Regions from separate parts of the Homo sapiens genome. Here region 2 is linked to region 1. Evidence: fine-mapped expression QTL. Tissue or cell type: whole blood. Region 1 holds a variant in brackets; the other region holds the start of a gene. All regions are shown on one strand. Distances are between the middles of the regions.

Region 1 (2,758 bases):
GGCTTCTGTGTAAACAACAGAAGGTTCTAAAGTGGAGAGGAACCACGAGGCAGTGCTGTTAGGAGGCTATACACCATCCTTGAATAAACATCTGTGTGTGTTGCCATAAGCTGTAGGTAAAACAGACATGGTCCCTGTCCTTGTGGAGTTTGTGGGAAAAATTTTCACCCACTGATTCATTCAAAGATTCCCTGAGCACTTGTCAGTACCTGGCACTGGGCACTGCTGTGGGTAGTAGGAATATAGCTGTGAATGAGACTGGCAAGATCCCTGCCCTTATGAGGCTTTTGTTCTAGGGAGAAGGGAGGGCACACAAAAAACATAATTTTAGAAAGTGATAGGAAAAAGGGTTGTTAACAAAACAGGTGCCAATTTGTTACCAGAAGCTCCATAGAGGAAACAGGATTTTAAAGAAACTTGCAAATGAGGAAAAGTGTTATCTTGGTCAGCTAAAAGTGCCTCCTGAGCAGGAGGGCCCATAGCTGGGAGAAATTTCCCAGAGCAAAATAAATGAAGGGATGTGAACCTCGAATGAGTTAAAGTACAGGCAGTGGCTGGGAAGAACCTGGTGCCAGAAGGAGGCGAGGTTTCTACCATCAACTTAACAGAAACTAAAGGGGACTGAGGTTAAGGCCTTCCCCCTGCTCTGGTCACTGCATTATAATCCTGCATATGCTCTCTGTATGTGTTTTTTTGCATTTGAGGTGGCTGAAAGTGAGAATGATGATTTCTATTTCCTCCTCCTCCCTTTTATTTTTAATTAGATACATCAAAAATAGGTTAGCACCAATAAAACAGGCTTCTCTTTGCCTTGACTTTGATTAGGAAAGGTTAGTCCTTTATCGTCAGGGCTCAAATAACATCTAACTAGACTTTTAAGAATTTAAAGAGGATATAAAATTTCTACTAAGACATTAATAGATTTCTGACTCTCTTAATTTAGTACCACCCAACTGCCTTTAAAAACGTCTACAAAGTGTGTCACCAAGATGAATATTACATTAGTCAATAGTGACTACTGGATCAGCAAACATGGACATTCGAGAGTTTAAGAGGCATATGAGAAGTTAGCTGAACTACTACTGAATTCCTTAAACTTTACTGGTATTCACTCAAAAGAATGAGGGAATT[C/CTT]TTTTTTTTTTTTTTTTTTTTTTTTGAGACAGGGTCACCCAGGCTGGAAAGCAGTGGTGCAATCTCGGCTTATTTCAGCCTCGACCTCCAGGGCTCAGGTGATCATCCCACCTTAGCCTCCCAAATAACTGGGATTACAGGCTTGTGCCACCTTGCACGGCGAAGTTTTGTAATTTTTGTAGAGACAGGGTTTCGCCATGTTGCCCAGGCTGGTCTTGAACCCCTGGGCTCAAGCAATCCTCCTGCCTTCACCTCCCAAAGTGCTAGAATTACAGGCATGATCCACTGTGCCCAGCCCAGAATGAGGAAATTCTTGAACTTATTTCTAGTAAAACTGATTCACATGTCCTTGAAAATAGCCCAAATTATATAACAGGAGTCTTTTTAACTTGGAATCTACAGAGTTCCTGTAATTGTATGTAAAAATTTTATGTCTATATTCATAGTCATAGTTACTTGTTCATTACAGAACCAAAAACGTCCATGAACCATGAAAAGTCTTAAAGTGCTTTCATAAGGCCACGTGTGGTGGCTCATGCCTGTAATCCCAGCACTCTGGGAGGCTGAGGCAGGCAGATCATTGAGGCCATCAGTTTGAGACAAGCCTAGGCAATATGGTGAATCCCCATCTCTGCTAAAAATGCAAAAATTAGCTGGGCCTGGTGGTGCATGCCTGTAATCCCAGCTACTTGGGAGGCTAAGGCAAGAGAATCAGGGAGGCGGAGGCTGCAGTGAGCCAAGATCGCACCACTGCACTCCAGCCTGGGTGACAAAGTGAGACTGTCTCAATAGATAGATAGATAGATAGATAGATAGATAGATAGATAGATAGATAGATAGATAGATAGATAGACAGACAGACAGACAGACACTTTTATAAAAAATTCAAATTTTCCTTTGGCTATTTCTTATCTTCAGAATACATTTTCTATAAAAACACATTCCCAGCACTCAGGGCTCTGGGACCAAACAGGGCAGGCACTATTTCATGTCCCGTAAGACACAAATCATTAGTAAGAGGAACTCTGAAGCCAACAGCTCTTCAGTAGTAGGAGGAAGCAGTAAAAAGTAGTGGAAATAAGACTGCTCAGTAAATACCAAGTCCTGAATTCTAGGGCCAGTTCTGCAACTGTCCAGCTATGTAATCTTGTAAACTCACAACCGTAATGGCCACCATTTCCTATTTGTATAATGAAGGAGTCTGGATTGAATCAGCCCTAAAATTTTCACAGACTCTAAAAATTTGGCAGTCTCAGAGTTTGCGCTGATAGAATTTGATGTTTACAGATTGAAGGTGAAGTTCAAGTCAATAAGCAAAACATTTATTTTTTTTAAGTGTTGGTCAGCATTAGAAGAGAAACCATCTGTTGACTACAGTAGCAGGATTCATTTCTGCAACTGCTGAGAGACAAAAAGCAGATGAAAAATATGTAAAAAGATGAAGCATGCCATGAAAATTACTTGTTCGGGAATTTACCATCTATGTGCCCAGAATTCCTTCCTGGAATCTCCACCCATGAGTACAACTGCTTGCTGGGCATCCCCTTTTGGATATCCTGCAGGAACCTCCAGCTCTGAACTTGCCCAAATGAATTCACCCTCTTCCTCTTGAAGAGGAAGGTTCTCT
Region 2 (2,758 bases), 50 kb after region 1:
TCCTGCTCGGCTCACAACTTTTCACAAACTCTCCAGCCAACACCCCACCCTCCCCGGGCCGAGGAGAAACCCCTCCCCTTCCCACTCACTCCTCCTGGTGGTTAGTTTGCGAAAGTCGTCCGCCAGGCCCAGACCGCTGGATAGGAGGCTCTTGGCCGGGCCGGGGGCTGGGGGCCGGGATGGCAGAGGGGGCCCTAGCTGCGCCCCGCCGCGCTGGGCCCTCGTCTCCGGGTGCTCTCAACCCTCATACAGGCCCTTAGCCGTTCTCCTAGGGACCCTGCCCGGACAGGAGGAAAGGTTTCCGGCCCATGGAGTTTAGTCTCATTACAAAAGCAAAACAAGAATAAGACTTACCAAGTTGCTTGCCGTTGGGGCTGAGGTCCAAGGAGGTGATCGCAGCTTTGTGGCCTTTGAAATAACGCTCCAGAACGGGGTCCTCCTGGAAAGGAAAGTTGTCAAGTTTTGAAAGCCGCCGCAGACCTCGAATTCTGGCGGCTGGGATCCACGCTGCCACTTCCCCGGAGTCCGGCTTGGGAATGGCCACCCAGGCGGCGGCTTGGCTGGGCGGCGGGGCCGGGCAGCAGCCCACCCACGGGCGCGGCGCCCAGTCCTGCTACAGGGAGACGCCGGCGCCAGCTCTCCCCGCAGAGCCCGCAAAACGCTCTGTTCGCGCTTCCCAGAGTCCAGCGCATCGCAGGAACCGCGGCCCCTTTGAAATGCACGTTCCCGGGCCCCGCCCGCTGGCCCAAGGCAGGCAGGTGCGAGGATGCGCCTCGGCTTTGGTACTTTTTTTTTTTTTAATACTTCCTAGGTGATTCTGACGCAGGCGCTCCACGGAAACCCTCCGAGAATTCTGGGGGCCGTGGGGCCGCCCAGCTCAGTCCGGAGCTCCGGAACTCGGGGAAGAGCGTCCGGGAGCCGGGTCTGGGTTCCGCACTCCGTCCGCCCCGATGGCAGAGAGTGAGATACGGACGCCCCGGGACGAGGGGCTCAGGACCCGGCTACGGACACCTGCCTCCATCTCCCTCCAGGTGCGGCTTCGGCCCGGACCTGGCCCCGCAGCCCGCGGGACAGGCTCCAGGGAGGGACCCCCCCCACCTCCAACCCGTCCTTACCGTGGCTGAGGCCATCGGGGGAGTGGTCGGCCCAAGGCTCCTGTGGGTGGGGGAACCCGGAGAGGGGAGGGGAGAGGATGGGGAAGGAGAGGGGACCGTGCGGCTCCCGGAACCGTCTGCCCAGAGCGGCAGCGCCTCCCGGTCACTACAACAACGGCGGCCCAGTCAAACCCCGCGCTCCAGGCATGGCCAGCCGAGCCCCGAGACACCGCCAGCCCTGTAAAGAGAGGACGGGAGGTATGCGCCGGGTCAGCTGTGGCCACACACCAAGCCATGTTAACTAACACTCGCGTTCTCCCTGGTTTGATGTCAGGAAGTGGGGTAGTAACCAGGACTGGAATAAGAGCGATGAATGGAAGGGCGTTGTGAGCCTGTGATCGATGCGATCAGAGTTCTATTACGTTTTAAAGAGACAGCACCCGTGACGTTTAAGGTGATCCCCTACCGCTTATTTTGTTGACGTAAAGCTTTGACATGAAGAGGGGCAGCTTGCTAGTTATTAATATACTAAAAGGAACTAAATCCCCTGAGGGCAGATTTGAATTTATTTAACCACTGTTTTCCACACAGTGCCCTGCAGGATATTGATATAGTTGCTGGATGTGCGTGATGAATGAATGAGTGAATGAATGAATAAATGTTGTGCATGCACTTAATAATTTTCTGCGATATGTTTCCATTCTCATCTGCTTATTTGCGTATACCTTAGAGCACTAAACTTACACAGCTGGATACTTAAAGTCTTTAGGAAGACTTGGAAACATGGTTTTTTTTGTTTGTTTTTTGTGAGACCACGTTTCTACAGCAGGCTTTGTTACACATAGTATCATTTGTGCTTCAGCCAAACAATGAAGTTGGTAGAATTACAAAATGTTTTCAATGTTTCCAAGTTATAAACTTGATTCCTAGATATTGGTCTTAGAGGTCACACAGAGACAGTTCTTCTAATTCCAAGTCCATATCCTTTTTTTTTTTTTAACCCTGCCTCAAAGCGTGATGTTCTGAGCTGAAAATTACATATAGTGTAAAGATCCTTAGCAACATCAAAGGGCATGATAGAACACAGCTGGTAAGACATGTGTTTTATGCAAATGAAAGGTATGCTACACACCTTAATTACAGATTCCCTAGTTGTCTAGTGATTGAGTTTAATTTTATTGAATATGGTACTTAACAACTAAACAGGTAGGCTTTAGATTACAGTATTAGTTAATTTAAGTATACACTTGTTAAATATCTGTTGTATGTTTGGCCTTGAGGGACACAATGATGACTAAGATATTTCCCCTACCTTCAAGAACTCAGCAATCTAGGGTTGGTGAGTCTCATGCTTTAGCATTTGTAATGTTGATTTGGGGGCTCCATTTCCAGAGATGCTGAATCAACATATACAAGGTGGGATCCAGGGCCCTTCTGATGTAACAAGCTCCATAGATGATTACTATGGGAGTCTCAGCTGTCTATGTTGAGAAACACTGCATTAGTCTAGGAGATGATATGTTAAGAGTGTTGATATCAGCAACTTGTCAGCAAACTGTTGCAGGACTCTTAGTTTTGCTACATATTACCAGTTTAGGCTTGATTTATTTTAAAAGCCTGCCATGTTTAAAACTAATGCTGGATACTGGTGGGAATGTAAAATG

Evidence for each region. PIP is the estimated chance that this variant, and not a neighbour inherited with it, causes the effect.
Region 2: POC1B starts here. The variant in region 1 is fine-mapped to the expression of POC1B in whole blood (INTERVAL, PIP above 0.99).

The regions. Positions count from the first base shown.
Region 1 is chr12:89,474,779-89,477,536 of GRCh38, forward strand. All of the region lies in intron 4 of POC1B-DUSP6 (POC1B-DUSP6 readthrough), which reads right to left. All of the region lies in intron 4 of POC1B (POC1 centriolar protein B), which reads right to left. Among named protein-coding and RNA genes, the nearest start is that of GALNT4, 49 kb to the right of the region's middle. The variant C/CTT (reference allele first, on the strand shown) is at 1,132.
Region 2 is chr12:89,524,766-89,527,523 of GRCh38, forward strand. POC1B (POC1 centriolar protein B) reads right to left here and starts at 1,282. Exons shown (of 12, transcript NM_172240.3): 1 at 1,116-1,282; 2 at 355-439. The coding sequence starts at 1,130. POC1B-DUSP6 (POC1B-DUSP6 readthrough) reads right to left here and starts at 1,282. Exons shown (of 11, transcript NR_189589.1): 1 at 1,116-1,282; 2 at 355-439. It overlaps POC1B-GALNT4 (POC1B-GALNT4 readthrough), which reads right to left and starts at 1,497. Exons shown (of 3, transcript NM_001199782.1): 1 at 1,116-1,497; 2 at 355-439. The coding sequence starts at 1,390. It overlaps POC1B-AS1 (POC1B antisense RNA 1), which reads left to right and starts at 805. Exons shown (of 2, transcript NR_146294.1): 1 at 805-1,031. It also overlaps GALNT4. RefSeq lists silencers at 48-427, 978-1,237.